Linked DNA regions of Homo sapiens: all the other regions are linked to region 1. The links come from fine-mapping of genetic effects on gene expression. A gene starts in region 1. Each other region holds a variant in brackets. All regions are shown on one strand. Distances are from middle to middle.

The links. PIP is the estimated chance that this variant, and not a neighbour inherited with it, causes the effect. A credible set is the group of variants that fine-mapping cannot tell apart.
Region 2: its variant is the best candidate, but not a certain one, in a credible set for the expression of NSMAF in blood mononuclear cells (TOPMed, PIP 0.56).
Region 3: its variant is the best candidate, but not a certain one, in a credible set for the expression of NSMAF in cerebellar hemisphere (GTEx, PIP 0.67).

The regions. Positions count from the first base shown.
Region 1 is chr8:58,654,929-58,663,116 of GRCh38, reverse strand. NSMAF (neutral sphingomyelinase activation associated factor) reads left to right here and starts at 3,264. Exons shown (of 31, transcript NM_003580.4): 1 at 3,264-3,544. The coding sequence starts at 3,486. LOC124902083 (small nucleolar RNA U13) reads left to right here and starts at 773; the gene lies at 773-876. RefSeq lists silencers at 3,187-3,526, 3,537-3,986 and enhancers at 3,698-4,260, 4,437-4,726, 4,261-4,824.
Region 2 is chr8:58,565,114-58,573,301 of GRCh38, reverse strand. SDCBP (syndecan binding protein) reads right to left here. Exons shown (of 9, transcript NM_005625.4): 3 at 2,337-2,415; 4 at 988-1,097. Among named protein-coding and RNA genes, the nearest start is that of SDCBP, 16 kb to the right of the region's middle. The variant C/A (reference allele first, on the strand shown) is at 3,966.
Region 3 is chr8:58,632,702-58,640,889 of GRCh38, reverse strand. NSMAF (neutral sphingomyelinase activation associated factor) reads left to right here. Exons shown (of 31, transcript NM_003580.4): 3 at 5,344-5,422; 4 at 5,518-5,585; 5 at 5,665-5,701. Among named protein-coding and RNA genes, the nearest start is that of NSMAF, 23 kb to the left of the region's middle. The variant G/A (reference allele first, on the strand shown) is at 3,657.

The sequences.
Region 1 (8,188 bases):
CTGTTAGAAATTATGTTTGTTTGTTTAAGTCTTTTAATGTGGGGGATGGGGACTGGACTAAATTATTCGTGCTGGGAGTCTGGTTTTTATAGGCCAAGGTTGAGGCCTAGTTGAGAAGTGGGCTCAGAGGAATTTGGCTAGAGTTGGGTTAAGGAGATTCTTTAACAGTCTCTGCCTATTCGATCACATCTAATCTTCCTCTAATGTTTAACTTCAAGAAGATAACTTACATTCTGGGTTTTTGTTGTTGTTTTTTCCTTATTCCAGCCAAATTAATCTCTCCTCTGAACTCACAGAACCTTTTGTAGTACTTCTCATAAAGAAATTTATCATGTACCTTTTGACAAATTTTATTATCTTATTTCATTGTGTACCTGCTCATGTATTTATTTCTTGGCTACCAGACAGCATCACAATTTCCTCCAGGAATGTTGACCTAATGTGTTACAGGTTCTGCACTGCACTTGGACACGTGGAAGGGACTCAGTCACAGTCAAAGGGTACCCAGGCACCTTCATTCATTCCCAAAATTTTTAATGGGTGTGCTCAGTATACATAGCATTTTGTCCAGTGCTGCTAGGGGTCAAATTCAAAAGACCCAGCCACAACTTTTATTCTTGGTTTCCCTACCTTCTCTTCACAGTCCTGCGACTTACTAGAGAAAGCTGAGATGTACATTTACCTTGAAGCTTCTAAAAATGTAACCCTGCAAAACCTGATCCTTAAGACAGTATGAGATATGTTTCCACAAGCATACAATTTAGAGGTTTGGATCCTTTTGTAGTTCATAAGTGTGATGATTGGGTGTTCATGTGCAGCTGTGTGATGTGCCGCCCTTGAACCTTGTTACGAGTTTGGCACATTACCTGTTTAACGTGAAAAAGAAACTTAGAGGCGTGTTATTCAAGAATCCCTCAAAGGTAAACAATCAGAGGCTCATTCTCAGCATATATTAAGAAGTTATAACCACACTGAGATACCACTCATACCACTAGAATAGCTCTAAACAAAAGTCAGGTAATAATAAATACTGGTAAAGATGTAGAGAAACTGGAACCCTTCTACGCTGCTGGTGGGCATGTTAAATCGTACAGCCACTTTGGAAAACAGTCTGGCAGTCTCTCAAACATTTAGACATGGAGTTACCATATGACCCAGTTCCATGGTGGGCAGGCCTATACAAATCTATCTCAAAGTCCTGGGATGCCGGGAGGTGGAAGAAAGAGGCTGACAAATAAAGTTCCTTGGGAAGAAACATTTAATAGCGACTAAGGAACAGAAGCCATGTCCATATCTGTGTCTTGGGCAGCAAGATGAGATGGTGGATTGCTGTGCTATTAACCCCCAGACTCAATGTTTTTTTTTTTTTTTCTTTTGAGATAAGGTCTCTCTCTCTCTGTATTGCCTAGGTTGGGGTGCAGTGGTACGATCATGGCTCACAGAAGCCTCAAACTCCTGGACTCAAGTGATCCTCCTGCCTCAGCCTCTCCAGTAGCTGGGACTATAGGTGTGTGCCACTGCACCCAGGTAATTTTTATTTTTTATTTTTTGTAGAGACAGGGTCTTGCTTTGTTGCCCAGGCTGGTCTCGAACTCCTGGCTTCAAGCAATCCTCCTGCCTCAGCCTCTCCAGTAGCTGGGACTATAGGTGTGTGCCACTGTACCCAGGTAATTTTTATTTTTTATTTTTTGTAGAGACAGGGTCTTGCTTTGTTGCCCAGGCTGGTCTCGAACTCCTGGCTTCAAGGAATCCTCCAGCTTCAACTTCCAAAAGCATTGGGATTACCGGCATGAGCCATCACTCCAGCCCCTTAGGGCTTATATACCATAGGGGAGGGGTGGTTCAGAAGGGATGTGTAGGACAATTGAAGTATAATAACATCAAGTTGTTTGAATTAAGGACAGAACATACTGGGTAGATACCTGCTCTTACACAAGGAACAATAGATAAAGTAGAAATCTTAGAGGCCTTCCCAGAACTGGGGTCAATCAGAAGTCAACACGGAGGATTAGCTTCCAAGATGGAGCTGCTTTCGCCTCCACATCCAGCAATTCCACTCTTAGATTCCAATTCCACTCAACAGAAATGGAAACATAGGTCCATAAAAAAACTGTACATGACTGTGTACAGCAGCCTTATTCACAATAGCCAAAATGTGGAAACAACTGAAATGTCCATCAACTGATGAATGGATAAACAAAATGCAACAGAATATGCTCCAGCAATCTAAAGGAACGAAGTACTGTACAGATACATGCTACAACATAGATGAACCTTGAAAGCATTACGCTAAATGAAAGAAGCCAGACACAAAAGGCCACATATTGTATGGCTCCATTTATATGAAATATCCAGAATAGGCAAACCCATAGAGACAGGAAATTGATTATTGTTTGCTAGGGCTGGGGTTTGGAGGGTAGAGTTAGGAAGAGTGACAGCTAGAGGGTATGGGTTTCTTTTACATGTGATGAAAATGTTCTCAAATTGTGGTGATTGTTGAACATATCTGGAAATATACTAAAAATCGCTGAATGGTATACTTTAAATGGTTGACTTGTTTGGTATGTGAGTTATATCCCAATAAAGCTGTTATATAAAAAAAAATCATGCGAGCAATTATCTCAACAATCAAGAGACTGTGTTAAAGATTCTTTGCTTGGCCAAACTTCAGTTAGGCTTCTGAATCTTCTCCCAGGTCCTTGTGTGCACTTCCTTGTAAATGCAGTGTTAGGAAGTAACACTGCCACGGCAGTTTAGCAAGAATCCCCCACCCTCCATATGTGATCAAAATTCTTTACTCCTACCCTTAGTATCTGACCCCCTGGCCTGCCTTCACTGGGACTCCTGTTAGGTTGGTTCAGCCAGAATTTCCCCCAGAATTGATGTTTCCTCTTAGCAGTTTTCCGAACACCTGCTCCTTGCTCCTTGGCTATAAATCTCCACTTATTCCTGGTGTATTTGGAATAGTTACGACTGAGTTGCCTTCACCCCTTTAACTTCCGTCTTTTTTTTTTTTTCACAATGGAGGACACAAAACGTTGTTATTTCAAGTCTTTGTGGCCAACAGATTGGTGGTTTATGGGCCAGCATCCCTTTTTATGCGTAAAATATTTAAAACGCAGCCTGCAATGGTTGGTAAAGTGGTGAAACGTTTAGTGTGTGAGGTCGGATCCTGGTCTGGCCGCTGGCCCTGGCGATCCTCTGAGGCGGCCTGAGTTTGGGGCGCCTCGTGTCACCGCGCGCCCCTCCTCCGGGCCTGAGTCACGGTGCCGCCGGAGTCCCCACGCGAGGATGCTGCGGTGAGCGCGGCCGGGACGCCGCGTCGGGCTCTCGGCCGCCCAGCGGCGCCGCAGGGGAAGCCAGGCCGGCAGCCGCGCGCTCCCCAGCCGGCCACCAATCCCGCCCTCCCCGGCTCCTCCGGACCTCCTCGGCAGGCGGCGGCGGGGCCTGCCTGTGCGCTCTGCGCCCGCCCGCGCCTACCCTCCATGGCGTTTATCCGGAAGAAGCAGCAGGAGCAGCAGCTGCAGCTCTACTCCAAGGAGAGGTGCGCGCCCAGCTGAAGAAGGGCCCAGCCGGGGGCCTAGTCGGGGCCGGTCGTGGGGACGCCGGCCGGAGATCTGAGGGACGGGAGGCGGCGTGGGGGCCGGGCACGGAGGCAGGGGCCGGACGCGTGTCCAGGGCCTGGGCTGGGGGCTGTGGCGGAAACCTGAGGTCGGGGTGAGAGGCCGGGGGCCTGGTCTGGGCCGGAGCCTGCCGGGGACAGGAACTGGATGACGGGCCAGGCCAGATTCCACCGCGGAGCCGAGGCATGCCGAGCTATCCGGCAGTGCAGGTCCCGGCGGCCGCGGGCAGCTCACCCGGAAGGCCGCGCGGGGTCCGGGCGTGGATCCCGGCACGCGAGCCCGGGCGTTCGCAGGGGAGGGTGAGTACGCTGCCCGGCGGGCACCCCCTTTCTAATCCTTCCCCTTAATCGGGTCCAGGCACTCGGCGCCGGCGCCGCAGAGTTGGTCGCCGGGCGGCACCGAGCAGGCCGGCGACCACCCACTCGCATTGCCGCGCCTTTTTCCTGCCGACTCCTTTAGACACAGGACTAGCTCCATGCCCTGGAAGGCTGGGAGGGGGGCCGCCGGAAAGGCCTGATTCTGAGGAAAGCCAAGGTCCTGCCTCCCAAACACTTGCTCCCCGCGCAGTGGACCTTGTGTTGGAAAGCTTTGCAGTCGAAATCGCGGTGCGGCAGCGGAGCACTCATTCTCACCAGCATCCCAGTAAGGATTTGGGATCCCTTGAGCTAAAATGGTCTCACAGCAGTTCCCTTTCAGATATGCTGGACCTGTCCCCAAGGGAAGTCTCATAAGAAAGCTCACTTCGGCTCTATGTATAGTTCCCAGGGCATTTTTGGTGACAGAAACAACTTGCTCGGTCTGCAGCTCAGATGCCAAAAGGAAAGGGGGGCTGAATCATTTTACAGACACACTGTTTTGATTGTGAGAGCCACAGATCTTCCAGTGCTGCTAGCCTGTCACGTTGTCTCATCAGTGAATACCAGCAAAGCAGGTTACACGTGGGAATACAAGTGCAGACTTCAAGATTTGTCTACACTTGTTTTATAAGGGTTGACTCGACCCCTTTGATCCAGACATTCATCTTTCTCTAATCTGTAATGTTGGTCTAACCAGTGTGTCCACAGTACGAAATGTCATTTTTCTACTGTAGAGAAGAAGATACGATACACAGAAAACGTATCTCAGATATGGCTTTCAAAAATGTTTTTGGTGATGTGATTAGGTTTTAGTCACAGAAAGGGTTGTTTATTAAATAACTGAGCCCTAACTATGTAACTCACACTTGGGGATGCCCTTCTGACTGAATTTGTAATGCATTTTTCTTGTGGAAAGAGCTTGAGTGGAGATTCTTTGTTTAGTACCAACAATATTAAGACTTGTTGGTGCTCTGTATTGAGTGGGTGAACATTCATATTTAAATTGTGAGAACTTTGACACACTTGAATTGGCATCATGTTGTATGATATGAGTCATTCGTGCCAATACTCATATTGGCCTTTTTGATATACAGGGAAACGTTTTTTCCTTGGTTCTGGCTGTTATTTCGATGAAGTAATTTGTGTTCAATTTGGCTAGCTCATACAGCTCCGTGGTGTCACACAAACCTTGAAACCTGTACTTGCATTTCCATGTATATGCTGCTTTGTTAGAATTCATTGATTAGACAACAACGTGATAGGCTGGCAGTGTTCAGAGAGAACTCTAGCTCTTGGCAACCAAAACATTTATCTATCCAGTCAGGAGGCATCAACTGTTCCTGAGCATCAGTCATCTGAAAAAGTTGGCGCCATGTGTTTTATATTTATTTGAATTATAACTTGCTGAGTGCCCAAATTGTTTAGTGCTCTGCCCCATGGCTTTGCAACCTGGGCTGATGGGCATACTCCATTCAATGCATAGAATATGCATTTGAATGACAGGAATCTGTCTCACATCAGGTATGCACTGGAATCAAGGAGTCTCTTTTATAAATCTTAGAATTCATTCTGAAACAGAGGAATATTTTAAGGCAACTTTATTAAGCCCCAAATTTACCATTTCTGCCCAGATTTTTCCGGGTTTATCCCCTTGCATCAATAAACACAAATTAGCAAATGGATTGGATTCGTCATTGGCTCCAGCATACCCAGGAAAATTGTTACTTTTCTTGGAAAACTTGAAGAGGGGTTGTTTCAGAGGTTACCCATGAGAGGCCTCAACCTGTTCATTGTAAGTTCACTGGCGGCTCTCATGCTAATTAAGGGATTTTAGATTTCCAGAGCTACCAAATATTGACCCCAGAAAAGAAACTTGAAATGAGCATTTATTTCTCTTATTGTTAGGTTGATGTACTTTGATATTCCTGCAAAAGCAGAAGCATAGAGACTGACTAGGAGATTCTTGCATTGGTGGTTTAAACCAAGGTGGTGGCAGAATAAATGGAGGAAAGTGGATGGATTCTAGATGTTTTTAGGACGTGTGATTGACAGGTCTTGGTGTGGTGTATTGTCTGTGAGAGGTGATAAAGGAAGAATTCCAGCTAGGATTATCTGATAAAATACAGCACACCCAGTTAAGTTCGAATTTCAGATAAACAATGAATAATTTTTTAGTATAAGTAATTGCGATAGTATATGCAATATTTGGTATGTACTTATACTAAAATTTTTTTAGTATAAGTAAATGCAATAGTATATGCAATATTTGGTATATACTTATACTAATTTTTTTTATTTTTATTTTTTTGAGACAGAGTCTCGCTCTGTTGCCCAGGCTGGAGTGCAGTGGCGTGATCTTGGCTCACTGCAAGCTCCGCCTCCTGGGTTCACGCCATTCTCCTGCCTCAGCCTCCCAAGTAGCTGGGACTACAGGCGCCTGTCACCACGCCCGGCTAATTTTTTGTATTTTTAGTAGAGACAGGGTTTCACCGTGTTAGCCAGGATGGTCTCGATCTCCTGACCTCGTGATCCACCCACCCGCCTTGGCCTCCCAAAGTGCTGGGATTACAGGCGTGAGCCACCGTGCCCGGCCCTTATACTAAAATTTTTAAAAGTATATTATTTATCTGAAATTCAAATGTAACTGGGCATATGATATTTTTATTTGCTAAACATGGAAATTCTACTCTCAGACTTCTGGTTTGAATAACTATAAAGTGGTGCCATTTATTGTTGATGTTTATAAATAAATGTTTTGGTAATTTTAAGGATTAGAAAACAGACACTTGGCCATTCGAAATAAGTATACTTATATCCTGGTTAAGATTTAGGTGGCAGGCCAGACACAGGGCTCACGCCTGTAATCCCCAAATTTTGGGAGGCCAAGGCAGGCAGATCACGAGGTGAGGAGTTCGAGACCAGCCTGGCCAATCTCTAATAAAAATACAAAAATTAACCAGGCATGGTGGCGTGCGCCTGTGGTCCCAGCTACTTGGGAGACTGAGGCAGGAGAATTGCTTGAACCTGGGAGGCGGAGGTTGTAGTGAGCCGAGATGGTGCCATTGCACTCCAGCCTGGGCGACAGAGCGAGACTCCATCTCAAACAAACAAACAAAAAAAAGATTTAGATAGCAGGAACCATATTGATTTTATTGTTTTTTAAAAATGTCCTGTGCAGGTGTTGGTGAGGGTAAATTGAAAACATTTTTTATTTTTTATTGTTTTTTTTTATTGAGACGGAGTCTCACTCTCGCCCAGGCTGGAGTGCAGTGGCACGATCTCAGCCCACTGCAAGTTCCGCCTCCCGGGTTCACGCCATTCTCCTGCCTCAGCCTCCCGAGTAGCTGGGACTACAGGCGGCCACCACAGCGCCCGGCTAATTTTTTGTATTTTTAGTAGAGACGGAGTTTCACCGTGTTAGCCAGGATGGTCTCGATCTCCTGTCCTCGTGATCCGCCCGCCTCGGCCTCCCAAAGTGCTGGGATTACAGGCGTTAAAGGCAATTCACATGTCTTCCTTGGATTTGTCAGGGATGGCAGGTGTATACATTGGGTTAGTAGATGAGGATATTATACAGACTTTCTATTTAAGACATTTCTATTTTAATATGAAATATATTAAAAGGTGGGAAGATCACTCGAGCCCAGGAGTCCAAGGTTACAGTGAGCTATGGTCATACCACTGCACCCCAGCCTGGGTGACACAGTGAGACCCTATCGCAAAGAAAAAAAAAAAAAAGACATTTCTATTTTATGATTTAGAAGTAGACTAAAGTAGGCAAATTGTTAAATTTTTTTGCTTTACTATCCACCGTGGAGTGTTGGGATGACAGCTATTTCTTGGGTAATGTAGAAGTTTAGATACTTGCCTAGGTGCCATGGCTTACACTTGTAATCCCAGCCCTTTGGGAGGCCAAGGCACAAAGATCGTTTGAACTCAGGAGTTTGAGACCAGCCTGGGCAACATAGGGAGACCTTTTCTCTATTTAAAAAATAAATAGGCCAGGTGTGGTGCCTCATGCCTGTAGTCCCAGAACTTTGGGAGGCCAAGGTGGGTGGATCACTTGAGGTCAGGAGTTCGAGACCAGCCTGGTCAACATGGTGAAACCCTGTCTCTACTAAAAATAAAAAAAAAAACTAGCCGGGTGTGGTGGCACACACCTGTAATCCCAGCTACTCGGGAGACTGAGACAAGAGAATCGCTTGAACT
Region 2 (8,188 bases), 90 kb after region 1:
TGTATATGCATTGGGATATGGCAACAAGACAGACACAGATTTAACTACAATTATAATAAGTGGTACAAAGTGCTATGGTCATAGCAATAACCTTAATAAAAGGTTATCAGACCCATTATAATTAAGCTAGACTCTGGAGTCTAATTACATGGAGCTTTGAATTTCAAAAAGAATGTTAAAAGATTAAGAGCAAAGGCCAGGCACAGTGGCTCATGCCTGTAATCCCAGCACTCTGGGAGGTCGAGGCAGGTGGATCACCTGAGGTCAGGTGTTCGAGACCAGCGTGGCCAACATGGTGAAACCCGGTCTCTACTAAAAATACAAAAAATTAGCCAGGCATGGTGGCGCGCGCTTGTAGTCTCAGCTACTTGGGAGGCTGAGGCAGGAGAATTGCTTGAACCCAAGAGGCGGAGGTTGCAGTGGGCCGAGATCACGCCATTGCACTCCAGCCTGGGTGACAAAGTGAGACTATGCCTCAAAAAAAAAAAAAAAAAAAAAAAAGATTATGAGCAACAAAGATATGATAGACCTATATGTGTATTTCAGAATGATTAACTTAGCAGCGGCTTAGTACTGTCTGAAATAAGTTACTAGAGGAAATTTAAGAGAGTACTATAATAATGAAGGCTAGAAGTATAGAAACCCTGAATATGGTTATAGTAGGACTAGAATGGATAAAAAACAGATAAAATGAATACAAGAAACAGAAACAGAATCAATAGGACTTAGTAACTGACTAAATGCAGAAGACAAAGGAGAACGAACTAGTAAAAGGTATCTGAATCTAAGTCCTAATAAACTCAAAACAGTGTAGCACAAAATGAAGTAGACTATATAAGAAATGATATCCAAAAGGAAGTCTAAAATTTCTGAGAAGTGAGGTTCAATGCTAGTAGTATATCTGTGAGTTAGCCACAAAGAGGAAAGCTTATACTAACATGTAAAGTATGATTTTATATAAATCAAAATTAATTACACTATACATACCCCCTGAAGTGGTGCACCAGAAACCACGGCCACATTTGCACGTATTTCTTCTTCATTTAAACTCAGCCCCATGTATTGAGAGAGCTCTGGATACAGTCTGGGATAGAGATCTAAAAAGTAAATGAATAAATTAAAAAGCACTTACAGAATACACAAAATGAAAACTTCTCTCATTATGGGCTTCTGCGTATTAACAAAATTACACTTAAGTTATAAAATCTAGAATGAATTTAAAGTAGCAATTTGGAAAGGCATCTCCCCATCTCTGTAATAATGAGAAATGGAAAATACAGAAAATGTTTAAAATTCGTAAAATATGAAGACATCTGAACTGAAACAACCAGAGATTCCTAAACACTCAAAAGTAGAAATAACTTTTCCAAATAAACTATCTTGCCTTTCCTGTTTCTTAAAATAAACTTACTTGATTAGGAATTTAGTAAGAATGCCACTGATTCTCCAATTCAGAACAACTGACCAAAATATCTATTTGTCAAGTCAGCTACTTTATAACTCATTCTGTAAACAGGGATATGGAATGATTCTTATGAACAATTTTTTTTGGAAGCTTGTAAATTTATTTAGTGTCTTATCATTTTAATAATTTTAACCACATTCCAATGAAATCCTGGAAATGGTATTTTTAAATATTAACATTATTTCACTTATTAGTAGTTATATACTATTTCCAAAAGCTCTTTTTTACATGAGACTTAAATTATCTGTGACTTAAAATGAATTTTCTATGAGGCACAATGTTATAAACTGTTGTAAGACAAAATGACAGGCCACAAAAACTTATTTAACACTTATTTTGTATCTTAAGTCATAGTATTTAGGAGCTCTGTCCTGAATCCCTCTGAACCTTGAAGAAAAAGGGACCAAAGACAGGATACAGAGAATGAATAAAGGCCTTAAGATTTAGGAGGCTTCCCAAAGAGGAGGTGGTTGGAAATTTCAGAAGCTCCCATAGGAAAGACAGAAGACAATTCAGAAAGTTCAACAGCAGCAGCATGATAGTTCTTAAATGTGAATTCATATAGTTCTCATATGTGAATTCATATATATAATTCATTCATAAATGAATCAGCCACGTTAGGGATTTACAAGTCAGTCTAAAATTAATTTTCATTAAGCCATGAAATACATCCCCATATCCACAGTTCACTATCTTAATTAGAAAAAGGGTTATTTTTTGAAGTAAACTTTTTTTTCTTATTCATAACTATTTGAGCTTAACTACCAATTTTATGCAGCCTGTCCAAAAAAAAATCTTGGATTCCTTATATGAGCAAAAGAAGATAACAATATTTCTGTTCACAGAGAATGAACTCAAAGTATAAACCTACTTCCATCGTGAGGGATAGGAGCAGAAGCTTCTGACAAAATTGCTGGATTGGCAGGGTTTGCAGAAAAAGCAGTTTGAGCCTGAAAAAGAAAAGAAGAAAATTCTAACAATATGCTATACTTACTTTATATTCTTATATAATTTATAAGCTAAATCCAGTACTTCCAAAAAGAAACTAAAACAATGAAGATTTATGTAAGAAAGTTTAATTTCAAACACATCAGCAATACATTTTCCAAAGGAAATCTGCAAATCAAAACTATATTTGATATTCTAAATACTTTTAAGGCTATCACAAAAAAATTGTAGAAGTACCATTCTACATGTCTTATAACCAGCACTTCATAGTGCTGCCACAATAAATTAATATTTTCAAAGTGCATTCTAAAATGAATAAATTTTACATTTTCATTATTCTTTTACTAATTAGTCCAAGTAAAAATATTTTATTTGCATAAGAAAAAACCTTACCCATATTCATATAAAAGTCACATATCAGAAAAACACCTAAAAAATTAATACTAAGCATGTCCCACTGAAATCATCTTTATCTTCATTGCAGCAAGTATAGGAAGGGGTTTATGCTAAATACTTTTAAAATATCAGAAATTATGAAAATAGCACAGTTTATCACTGACATAAATCGATGATGACAAGGTAATGTAATTTGTAACTGTTAAACAAACTTGCCAAAATCACTCTGACACACTCTGACACTCTAGCATTTATCAATGCTACTCATGCTCAAGTATCCTCTTCTCAGGGCTGTCTTGATGGCCTACATCATATGAAGTATCTCACTGATGGAAATACTTTATCCTTTACAATTAGATCTGACTTTCTGAAATAGCTATATGTCATTAGAGACAAGTTTGGTAATAAGTTGTATGACCAATCTCTACCAACTTTTTACTTTATTGGAAATGTATCATTTTAAAAATGAAGTTCATAGTAGTATCTCAACCTAGCCCTAAAATCAATGTCAAGAGTATTCCCAAAGATGCTTGGAGATATGAAAGCTTAGTTTAAATAAGTAAAGCCTATGAAAGCTTTGAATGGTACTAAAATTATATGTTCTGATATACTTGTTGAGTCATCCTTTAATATTTATTATTTCATAATTTGTTAAACATTCTAGATTTAAACAAAATACAGCATGAAAATCTTTATAATTATAAATAACAATCCACAAATTGAACATGTGTTGAACTTTGAAAGTTCTTTCACCACCGATTAGCTAAAAGGAGCTAGTGGCTTGTTATATTACTTCTTGAATCATGTCTAACAAAAAAAATACTGTGCGGCACTGGGAAAAAAAAAAGAACTATAAAGACATGAAAAGACATGGAGGAAACTTAAGTGGATATTACTAAGTGAAAGAAGCCAATCTCAAAAGGCTACATACTTTATGATTCCAACTATACGACATTTTGAAAAATGCAAAATTGTGGAGATAATAAAATATTAGGCCAGGCACAGTGGCTGAGGCCTTTAATCCCAGCACTTTGGGAAGCTGAAGCTGGAGAGTTGCTTGAGGCCTGGAGTTCAAGACCAGCCTGGGCAACATAGGAAAACCCTGCCTATGCAAAAAATTGTTTTGGCCAGGCACAGTGGCTCATGCCTGTAATCC[C/A]AGCACTTTGGTAGGCTGAGGTGGGCAGATCACCTGAAGTCAGGAGTTCAACTGACCAACATGGCATGTTGTCATGTTTGTCATGGCCAACATGGCAAAACCCTGTCTCTAGTAAACATACAAAAATTAGCCGGGCATGGTGGTGGATGCCTGTTAATTCCAGCTACCCGGGAGGCTGAGGCAGGGAGAATTGCTTGAACCCAGGAGGAGGAGGTTGCAGTGAGCCAAGATCGCACCACTGCACTCCAGCCTGGTGACAGAGCCAGACTCCGTTTTGGGGGAAAAAAAAATTTTCTTTTTAAACTAGCTAGGTGTGGTGGTGCATGCCTGTAGTCCCAGCTACTTAGAAGGCTGTGGCAGGAGGATGGACGCTGCAGTGAACCATGACTGTGCCACTGTACTCCAGCCTGGGCAACAGAGCGACATCCTGACGCTAAAGAAAACACAAAAGCAAAAGCAAATTATTGGTTGCCAGGAGTTTCTAGAAGGGAAGGAAGAACAGGCATTAAAGAATTTTTCGAGCAGTGAACCTATTCTGTCTAATGCTACAATGGTATACAGTCATGTGCTGCCTGTTCTGGTCAATGATGAACCACATATACAATAGTGGTCCCATGAGATTATAAAAGAGCTAAAAAATTCCTACTGTCTAGTGACATCATAGCTGCCGTCACACAGAACAACTCATTACTTTGTGGTGATGGTGGTGTAAATAAGCTTACTGCACTGCCAGTCATATATAAAAAAGTATAGCATCTACAATTATGCATGGTACATAATACTTGATAATAATAAATGACTATGTTACTCATTTATGTATTTCCTGTGTTATACCCTTTAGAGTATATCCTTCTACTTACAAAAAAAGTTAACTGTAAAACAGTCTCAGGCAGGTCCTTCAGGAGGTATTCCAGAAGGCACTATTACCATTGGAAATGACAACTCCATGCATGTTACTGCCTCTGAAGACCTTTCAGTGGGATGATGTGGAGGTGGAAGACAGTGATATTGATGATCCTGACCCTGTGCAGGCCTAGGCTAATGTGAGTGTGTGTCTCAGTTTTTAACAAACTTACAAGCGATTTTTAAAAACTAAAAATTTAAAAAATAGGAAAAAAGCTTATAGAATCAGGATATAAAGAAAGAAAATATTTTATACAGCTGTACAATGTTTGTGTTTTAAACTATGTTATTACAAGAGTCAGAAAGTTAAAAAATTAAAGTTACAGGAAGCTAAGGTTAATTTATAATTCGAGAAAGAAAAATTTTTAAATAAATTTAGTGCAGCCCAAGTATAGAGTATTGATAAAGTCTACAGCAGTATACAATAATGTCCTAGGCCTCACATTCACTCACCGCTCACTCACTGACTTACCCAGCGCAACTTCTAGTCCTGGAAGCTCCATTCATGGTAAGTGCCTTATACAGATGTACCATTTTAAATCTTTTACATTGTATTTTTACCATACCTTTTCTGTGTTTAGATACACAAATACTATTGTGTAACAATTGCCTACAGTATTCAGTACAGTAACATGCAGTATTACTGTATCATACAGGTGGGATCATACAGGTTTGTAGCATAGGAACAACAGACTATACCATACTGCCTAGATGTGTAGTAGGCTATGCCATCTACATTTGTGGAAGTACACTCTATAATGTTTGCACGACAAAACTGTCTAATGAGGCATTTCTCAGAACATATCCGTCTTTAAGCAACACATGACTATATACACGTCACTATACATTTGTCAAAATCCACAGAACATATAACACCAACAGTGAACCCTAATGTGATGTAATGTAAATATGTAGACTTCAGGTGATATTAATGAGCCAGATGTACTGCTCTGGTGCAGATGCTGATACTGGGGGAGGTTGTGCATGTGTGAGGACAGAAGGTATACTGTACTTTCTGATCAATTTTGTTGTGAATCTAAAATTGCTCTAAAACACAGCTTATTAATTTAAAATACTTCTCCTTTGTATGTAGTTATGAATTTCTGTTCTTTCATTGCTATTGTTTTTAATCCAAGGAATACTGAAGAATACATATAGAAAGCTCCCTGCAAAGTTAAATTTAATTATGTTATTTGCAGTAAAAATGAAACAAAAGGATGTAACCCAATTTTAAGTACTGTAAACCATTAAATGTAGCTACTTATTTCAAACTTACTTTGAAATGTGACACTACTAAAAAAAGGGGTTGGGGTGCCCCAAGGAGCATGCCAGGGCCTATTGTTTCTGCCATTAACAGAAAGGATGTGGAAAAAACATGCTTGTAGCGTCACTGCTGCCAAATTCTGCCCACCATATTAGGAAACTGATAAGCTCTGGTTCTGTATATCATTATTTATTAAAAGCTTACTTTGCATAAGTAGAGGAAACCACAGGCTCTTGTCAGGATTTGGAATGGAGAGAAAAAGGTCTAGGGACTGTATGATGCTAAAAGCCACAGCCTAGTGGCTACTGCAGAATAGTTTACAAAATATGAATGGTTGGTTCATTGCTGTAATTTAGCTTTGCTGTGGTGTTAAAGGCCAGCAGATGAGAAAATGAATACTACCTTCCTTCATAATACCGTTTCAGGAGAATCTTAAGAATAAAAACAAACATGAGTATCATCCACCTTAGAAAATGATGCAAAAAAACAAAACAAAACAAAACAAAAACAGCCAAAGAGTTTAATGGCTAAATTAGGAATATTTTTAAATTCAGGGGTAATAAAAGAACCATGTTTCCCACTCCTTATTCACTGTTCTATCTCCCAGCTGCTTTCTGCTCTGAACATAAAACGTTCTTTAATGTAAATATCTATGTAATTCACTTCTGCTTAAAGAGGGCAGCATGATACAGATTGTAGCCCTCTTTATTTTTCATTCCAATATTTGTCAATATCAACTCTTCTGCTGCTGCTGTTTTCAAAACCAAAAGCCTCAGCTCATATCTGACTATGGTGAATTTACATTCAATTCCATAAAAAGCTAACAAAAAAAGGATGAAAACAAAGAACAGATTAGTCATTCTTACAGGTCCATCTAAAAATCCTTATCAGTTAATGTATTGATGTCATATTAATGGCTAAGCAGTTATTCTGGAAAGCTAAATATTTCAGATAAAGGCCTTTTAAAAAGAAAAGTGCTTGTTTAGATGAACTATGTGGAAATAAAAACCACATGAAGAAAATACTGACAAAATACTAAAGAAGTGATAGGAACATGTAAAAGATGACTGAATAGGCCACTTGAAACTTTGAGGCATCAAAGCCTTGGCAGCTGAACTGTAGATTTTAGAGATTTTACAAACCTCATTTTAATATCCATACTGGATCTATGATAGAAAATAATTGTTCATAATTCAATTATCAGTAAGTAAATTGAATATCTCACTTTCTAGTAAATTGAAGACAGGGACCCAATAAAATGATCTTCAGGGTAAGGAGTTTTCGTTTATCTTGTCAAATTAAAACAATAAACAACGGCTGAAGAAATTCTAAATTGATAAGAGATCAAGTTGAAAGCTAACCGTAAACAAATTCATCATATACTACAAATTACCCCCAATTAAAATAATTACCAAAAATTTCCCAATTAGCCAGAATTGGTCCCAATTCCTCACTTTGTTCTTAAGCAGAAGCATTTGTCTTCAAAGCTAATACTTATACAAAGGAGTATAAAAATTTTCAACTCAATGCAATTAGAAATACTGCAATCTCTACACAGTCATTTAGAGAATGAACAAGTGAAATGTCTGCTGCTCATCTCTCAAAGGAAAGAAATCACTACACTTTCCCTGTGCTCTTACATGACTGCTCTTCTAAAAGCAGCATGTACGCCACTATTTCTGTAATTTTAACTTCAGTTAAGAGACATAGAATTAAAGAGTGGTCATACCTAAAGATCCAAAAGAAAAATATACCAATTTTATACAAAACTATGAATATCTACAAAATTGGAGTATATTTTGTCAACTCAAATATGTTACATATAATTAAATTTTAACCAGAAATGTAAAAAGTGTAAGTCGAATTAAAAAAATCTCATGCCTATTAATTCACAGTGAAATGAAAAAAAAAATTGCTAATTTTTCTGTAAACTTTTCAGTCTGCAATTAATAAAACTAAAAAAAGGTTTATGAAGTGTAAAAATGAACAAATATATCTGCTATTTAGCTATCTTGCTTTATTTCACCTATAAGTAGAATGCATGTTACTGTGTTTG
Region 3 (8,188 bases), 22 kb after region 1:
AAAATCAAAGAGAAAATGAAACAGTTCAGGTGTGGTGGTTCACACTCGTAATCCCAGCACTTTAGTAAGCCAAGGCAGTACAGTACGATCTCTTGTGGCCAGGAGTTTGAGACCAGCCTGATCAACATAGCGAAACTCTGTTTCTATTTATTACAATTATATATTAAAAAAAGAAAAGACAAGAAACAAATGAATTTAATTATAAAGTTGGAGTTAGCCACAGAAAATTATTTTAATCAACTTTACAATATAATAATTTGACTGTGTATCTCTGGTAAGATGAAAAAGTATTGCAAAGAAGTTGAAAAAGAATGTAAAGTAATTGTAAACTTTTCCAGTTGCAATATTGTTGTTATTAGTATACTATTAGTATTATTATTTTGAAACTATTTTATACATGCATGTATATGTATTTATATAATTGGATAAAACAATTTAATAAGTATGGCCAAGACTCAGATTTTCCAGTATAAAAGAAAAGAGACATACATGTAATATTAAAGAAATAAAGCCTTTTTCATGCACTTTCCTCCTTTTTTCCAGCTTTATTGAGATATAATTGATGAATAAAAATTGTATATATTTAGGGTATACAATTTGATGTTTTGATATACATACACATTGTGAAATGCTGACCACAATCAAAGTAATTATCATATCCATCACCTCACAGTTACCTTCTTTTGTGTGTGTGGGAATAAGAACATATAAGATCTACTCTCTGAGCCAATTTCAAGTGTATGATGTGGTATGGACTGTAGTCAATAACTCTACATTAAATCTGCAGAACTTATCCTGGATAATGGACAACTTGTGCACTTTGCCCAGCATCTCCCCATTTCTTCCACCCCCTTTAATTTCGTGAAGTTTAACTTACTCTTGCCTGAACAAAGCTCTGAGCTTTCCCACCTAAAAAATTTTCGTAAGTTCCATTCTTGTCTCTTCTTTGAATTAAACTCTTTTAGAGTCTACGTGAAATCATGTAGTATTTGTCCTTCTGTGGCTGGCTTATTTTACTTAGCATAATGTCCTCCAAGTCCATCCACATGGCCACAAGTAGCAGGATTTCCTTTTTTGAGGCTGAATAATATTCCATTGTGTGTATGTATGTATGTCTATTTTTATATGTTTTATATTCATATATATATCATATTTTCTTTATTCATTAATCTATCAATGGACACTTAGATTGATCCCAAATCTTGGCTACTGTAAATAATACTGTAATGAACATGGGAGTACAGATACATCTTCAACATACTGGCTCCATTTGCTTTGGATGTATACCCAGAAGTGGGATTGCTGGATAGTATGGTAGTTCTATTTTTAGTTTTTTGAGAAACCTCTGTACTGTTTTCTTTAATGGCTAAACCAATTCATATTCCCACCAGCAGTATATAAGGGTTCTCTTTTCTCCACGCTCTTGCCAACAACTGTTATCTTTTGTTTTTTGATAATAGCCATCCTAACAGGTGTGAAGCAATAGCTTAATGTGGTTTTGATTTGCTTTTCTCTGATGATTAAGGCTGCTGAGGATCTTTTCATATGCTTGTTGGCCATTTGTATGTCTTCTTCTTCTTCTTCTTCTTCTTTTTTTTTTTTTATTGAGACGGAGTCTCACTCTGTCACCTAGGCTGAAGTGCAGTGGCGTGATCTCTGCTCACTGCAACCTCTGCCTTCCGGGTTCAAGCGATTCTCCTGCCTTAGTCTCCCAAGTAGCTGGGCGTACAGCACGTGCCACCATTTCTGGCTAATTTTTTTGTATTTTTATTAGAGACGGGGTTTCACCGTGTTAGCCAGGATGGTGTCGATCTCCTGATCTTGTGAACCACCCGCCTCGGCCTCCGAAAGTGCTGGGATTACAGGCGTGAGCCACCACACCCACCCATTTGTATGTCTTCTTTTGAGATATGTCTATTCAGGTCCTCTGCCTGTCTTTTAATAGGCTATTTGTTTTCTTATTATACTATCAAGTTGTTCGAGTTTTTTATGTATTTTGGATATTAGCCCCTTATCAGAAGTATGGTTTTCAACTATTTTCTCCCATTCCGTAGGTTGTCTTTTGACTTTGTTAATTATTTTTCTTGATGCACAGAAGCTTTTTGTTTTATGTAATCCCATTTGTCTATTTTTGCTTATATTGCCTGTGCTTTTGGAGTCATCCAAAATACTGCCCAGACCAATGCCGAGAAGCTTTTCTGTATTTTTTCTTTCAGCAGTTTTACAATTTCAGGACTTACATTTAAGTCTTCAGTTCATTTCAAGTAGATTTTTATGTATGGGATGAGGTAAGGGTTCACTTTTTTTTTTCCACGGGGATATCTAGTTTTCCCAACACCATTTATTAAATAAACTATCCTTTCTTCATTGTGTGTTTTTGGCACCTTTGTGGATGATTAGTTGACTGCATATATGTGGATGTATTGTGTTCCATTGGTCTGTACAGCTGTATCATGCTGTTTTGATTAATGTAGCTTTGTAGTATATTTTGAAACCAGGTAGTTTGATGCCACCAGTTTTGTTCTTCTTGTTCAAGATTACTCTGGACCAGGCATGGTGGCTTGCACCTGTAATGCCAGCTACTCAGGAGGCTGAGGAGGGAGGATCACTTGAGACCAGGAGTTGGAGACCAGCCTGAGCAACCTAGCAAGACCCCATCTCTAAAAAAACTAAAAATTAGCTGGGCATGGTGGTGCACACCTGGAGTCACAGCTACTTGGAAAGCTGAAGCAGGAGGATTGATTGAGCCCATTTTGAGGCTGCAGTGAGCTATAATCATGCTACTGAACTCTAGCCTGGGTGACATAGTGAGATCCCATTTCTTAAAATGAAACAAAACAGATTGTTTTGGGTGTTTTGTTTATTTTGTGGGTCAATATCAATGTTAATTTCTTTTTTTCTGTTTCTGTTAAAAATGCCATTGGGATTTTAATAGGGTTTGCTTTTAATTTGTAGATTGCTTTGGAAAATATGGACATTTTAGCAGTATTAATTCTTCCAGTCTGTGAACACCAGATATCTTTCTATTTATTTGTGTCTACTTCAGTTTCTTTCATCAGTGTTTTGTAGTTTTCAGTGTACAGACTTTTTACCTCCTTGGTTAAATTTATTCCTAAGTGTTTTGTTTTTCCTTTGGTGCTTTTATAAATTGAATTGTTTCTGTAATTTCTTTTTTGGATAGATCATTGTTAGCATATAGAAATGCAACGCTGTTTTTTGTATATTGATTTTGTATTCTTCAGTTTTACTGAATTTGTTTATTGGTTTGAATAGTTTTTTTGATAGAATCCTTAGGGTTTTTGTATACATATAAAATCATGTTATTTGCTAACAGAGACAGTTTAACTTTTCCAATTTGGATGCCTGTTCTTTCTTTTACTTGCCAAATTGCTCTGGCTAGGATTTCCAGTACTATGTTGAATAGTAGTGGTAAGAGTGGGCACCTTTGTGTTGCTTTTCTCTTTAAATGACAGTATTTCTTACCTCTATCTTTTGAAAAGGCCTAGAAATAACTCAGTTGCAATCAGCACCAAGAATCTGGTCTCTTAATACCACTTCCCACTGAAAGGATGGGGGTTCTTTGGAGAAATTGCTGATTCTAAGTCAGAGGCAGGAAATCTGTGAGATGAACCTGGGACATCCTGTCATACTGGCAA[G/A]TAAGGAAGGTATCAAAGACTACTGTAAATGAATTAAAAGGATGCAGGGGCAAGTAGACGATGCTGACATTGGGCCAAAAATGCGACAATGTAAGCATCAGAAAAGAATAACTTCTGCAATGGATTGAAATGTTTCATAAATGTTAAAATTCATGAGTACGTAATTTTATAAATATGTGTGTTTGTGTGTGGGTGTGTGTGTGTGTGTGTGTGTGTATAATCTTAATCAGTTATCCTCGAAGGATAGGAAGACAACAACTCATTTTTGTAACACTTGATAAATAAAGGTAAAGAATCAAGCATTTTTGTTATTTTCCTTGTACAAATTGTACTTCAGGGTAGCCAAATTGCTGATAAGTAAAGTTGTTCTTTTTTGTCAAATTCTAGCTCATAACATAGAAGGAATGATAAAATTTCAATGCCTAATGGAAGAATGGATTCACAGCAGGGCTTGGCAAACTACAGCCCTTGGGCCATATCTGAGCTGCCACTTGTTCTTGTAAAGTTTTACTGGAACACAGGCATTCCCATTTGTGTACATACTGTGTGTGGCTGCTTTCCCTATAACAGCAAAGTTGAATGGTTGTGACTGAGACCATATGGCCCACAAAGCAAAGATATTTACTATCTGGCTCTTTACAGAAAGTTTACCAGCCCTTGATCTAGATAGTAATTTTCAATAGCTGCTAAAACCTTTAGGTGAGAGAAGCTGCTGGGAAATTTTGTAATGGCTATATGGAGATTGACATCACCTGATCCTCTGGGTGCCTCTGGATGTGAAGGCAGTACCCGTGTACTACCTCTGAAAGTATTCTTTGAACACTGGCTGTATACATGATGACATTAAAGAATTATTAATTTCTTAGAGTGTGTTAATGATTGGTCACTTATTAAGAGAGGCTGTCTTCAGAGATTTTTGCTAAAATATTTGTGGATAAAGTATATGATGTCAATAATTTTCTGTGTTATTCAGCAGGGTCCCAGGGGGTTATACACAAGACAAGAGTGACCACATATTGACAATTGTAGAGCTAGGCCATTGGTACATGGGAGTTTTCTATTCTATTTGTATATGTTTAGAAATTTCATAAAAGTTTTTATGTTACTATTGGGTAATTTTGGGTATTAGAAAAGTAAATGCAGTTAACAACTTGGAAAAATGATATGAAATGGTATAAAATTTCAAAAACCCTTTGAGAAAGAATTGCAAACTAAATCATAACCTTCAGTAGAATGGGCCTTCTCATCTATTCAGTACATGTATATTGAGCACTGAGAATAGAAAGCCAAAGTAAATATTTACTGCTCACAAAAGAACAGGCAGTGTTACTCTGGGGTGGGATGAGTGTAGGCATTCTCAGTCTGTAAGACTATTTCTCAGTGTGATGTTTCTGGATTCATTAAGTTTCTAGCCAATAGATGCTGTAAACTATATGGAGATACACATATAAACCAAAGAAGTTTAATTAAAAACTTTCTAACATTTGAATTGTAAATGCCAATATGAACCACTATTCTGTGTTTTGTTTTACCAGTTAATTTAAAAATAGAGACGTTCTCTTTATATGCATTATTGATCTTTTATTATGTGATGCTTTAGTAACCTGCTTTCTAGTTAAAATGTACTATGATTATCTTGTGATTTTTGTTATGCTCATCAAACAATCTGTTGTACTTGGATCCCTAGGAAAATCAGAGGCTCCTTAAAAATATGTTCAAAATCGGTGATTTTTGAACCAGATTCAATATCCCAGCCCATCATCAAGGTAAATACATTTTAAATATGAACAGAAACATTCCTATTTTTTGTGTATGTCTTACCTTTCTTGATTTTTATAATATTTCTCTCAATTTTATCCAGATTCCTTTGAGAGACTGTATAAAAATAGGAAAGCATGGAGAAAATGGAGCCAATAGACACTTCACAAAGTATGTCATTTTCACCACTGTTTAATTTTACTTCAACCAAAAAGCTGTATATATTTAATGACTTTTATCTGTATTTTAGGGCAAAATCTGGGGGTATTTCACTCATTTTCAGTCAGGTAAGCACATAATAAATATTTTTTCCTAATCTGAATGAACATTCTTATATATGTGCATGAATGAAATTACTTGTAGAGATATCAGATGAAGACCATGGAATAGAAATCAAATGCTTTTAGAATTCAGTCATTGAGAAATATAGTTTTAAAAAGATGTGATCCCTAATGAGCTTCTTCATGTTTATTAAGTGTGTGATATCTGTGGGCTTGCGGTTTTGTCCTTGGAGCTCTCACGATTTATGATTTACGAGGCTTGAAATGAAGGGATGCAGCTCTTCCCGTAGCTTCCTAGCTATTTAGAAGGTGAGAGTCCATTGCCATGCCACTTAAATGATCTCAGGGACTTAGGACAACCAAGGCAATGACTTGGGATTGGTGGTCTTGTATCATTATGACCCTTGTGGTAATAACCTTTTGTTCATTCCAGATTTATTCCCTTTATATTTATGCACCCACCACTGCACTCAATATAGGCATGACAGCATTGGCAATAAAAGGTCAATTAAAACATGCTTTTTCTCCTGTCATATTATTAATTAGTATGTAGATTTAAAAAATTGTAAATAAGAAGGGACTACTTTCTTTTGGCTCTGGGTTTCATCTGCTTCATCTTTAAAGCGAAAGGGTTAGCAGATGTTGCCTTGACAGCTCTCGTTCCTTGGGGTGTTGAAGTGTTCAGAGAAGAATTGTTCTGGGATGAATAAGGGATAAGAAAAGCTGTGGGAACAAAGATGCACGGACTTGCTGACTTCAAAACTTGACTTAAATCCTCTCATGCAACAGACCAGAGTGTCCCTAGGAGGCAGATGGGGAGGGGAAGAGCATGCTCCCAGCACTTTTTCTATCACTGAAGCCTTTTGTTCACAGAACACTTTTAACATGTGTTGAAAGTTATTTTATGAAAGCTGAGAGGTAGCAGATGATTTGATTTTCTACATCTACCTTCCATGATTCTATTAATTTTAAGGAAGAAAACATTTCACAGGCTTCCTCAACTTCATGTTGTTTTAACTGGTATATGTGAAGACAGTGACAACCATCTACTGCTCTGGGGACCAAACATCGTTATTAATAATTCTGGTCCACCTCCATACTCTCATGTCTATCGTGTCATTTTACTTCATGACCTGGTTCCACAAAGCCCATATCTTGAAAGGAAGAGGTACTTTTTGACTTGAAGATAGGGTTTTCATTATAAAACTATACATTTTAGTTATTTTAGTAAAAATTTAATAACTTTGAGCTTAGGAATAAAGCCCCCAAATTCCTCCACCTACTTTTTTAATAGTTTATAGAAGAGGTCTTGTATGAAACCAGCTCAAAACCAGCCCGACACAAGCTACTCTTTCAAGCATTATTTAAAGCTTCCTGTGTCAAGTATACAACCAGGCAACTTTTGGGTTTTTTGAATATATACTAGGTCACAAGATCTCAGAAATATAGTACGGTGCTTTATATTTAGAGAGCTTTGCTTCCAATTTTTTTGTTGCTGCTAAAGAAGGGTGTGTGCATGTTTATATGAATAACAGATTCGACTCATGGATTCAATAAGTATTATATTCAGGGCTCTGGCAATCTAGGGAAGAACAAGATATCTGAAGCCTTTTGCTCCATGGACTTTACTTTTCAGTGGGGGAGACAGACAATAAACAAATGTCTCCTCTAATGTCAGGTGGTAACAAATGCTATGAAGAAAATGAAAGCAAGACAGAAGGATAGAAAATGATAAGGAATGTTCTCATGCTGCTTTAGAAAGAGTAGTCAGGGATGCCTCACTGAGAAGAGGCCACTTACCAAGAGACTCAGAAGGCTTAAGGCATTGAGCTGTGCAATTATCACAAACACTGGTATTCCAGGTACAGAGAGTGGTGGGGGAGAAGCCTGAAGGTGGGCATGTCCTTGACAGGTGGGAGGCACAGGAGTGTGAGTGCTCCTGGGGTGCGTGAGTCAAGGAGAACACTCAAGGGAGGCTGGAATAGGGGCAGGGACCGTGTCATGCGGGGCCTTGTGGGCCAAGGTAAGGACTTAGAATAAAGCGCAGAGAGAAATGCCACTGGAGAGCTGAAAGAGAAGGGGTGTGTCTGATTTGTATGTAAGTCTCTCTGGGGGCTGGGTAGAGAACACGCTGTACAAACCAGGGCAAGAGTGGAAGCAAGGAGACCTATTGGGGTGTTCCAGGAATCCAAGTGTATTGAACCACGATGGTGAGAGGTGGTCATTGTCTAGGTATATTCTGAAGAAAACCCAACAGATGTGCTGACGGATTGGTCGCAGGGTATAAAAGGGAACAGTCAAGAATGACTCCAATGAGATAGACAGTAGTGCCCTTTATAGTGATAAAGAGAGTTGGGAAGGAGCAGGCTTCAAGTAGGATGTGAGATTTAAGATGGCCATGAGAACTCCAAGGGGAGACGTCCAGCAGGCATTTGGATGCATCCATCTGGGTTTCAGAGAGGAGGCAGAGGCTAGCAAGACATACTGGGGAGC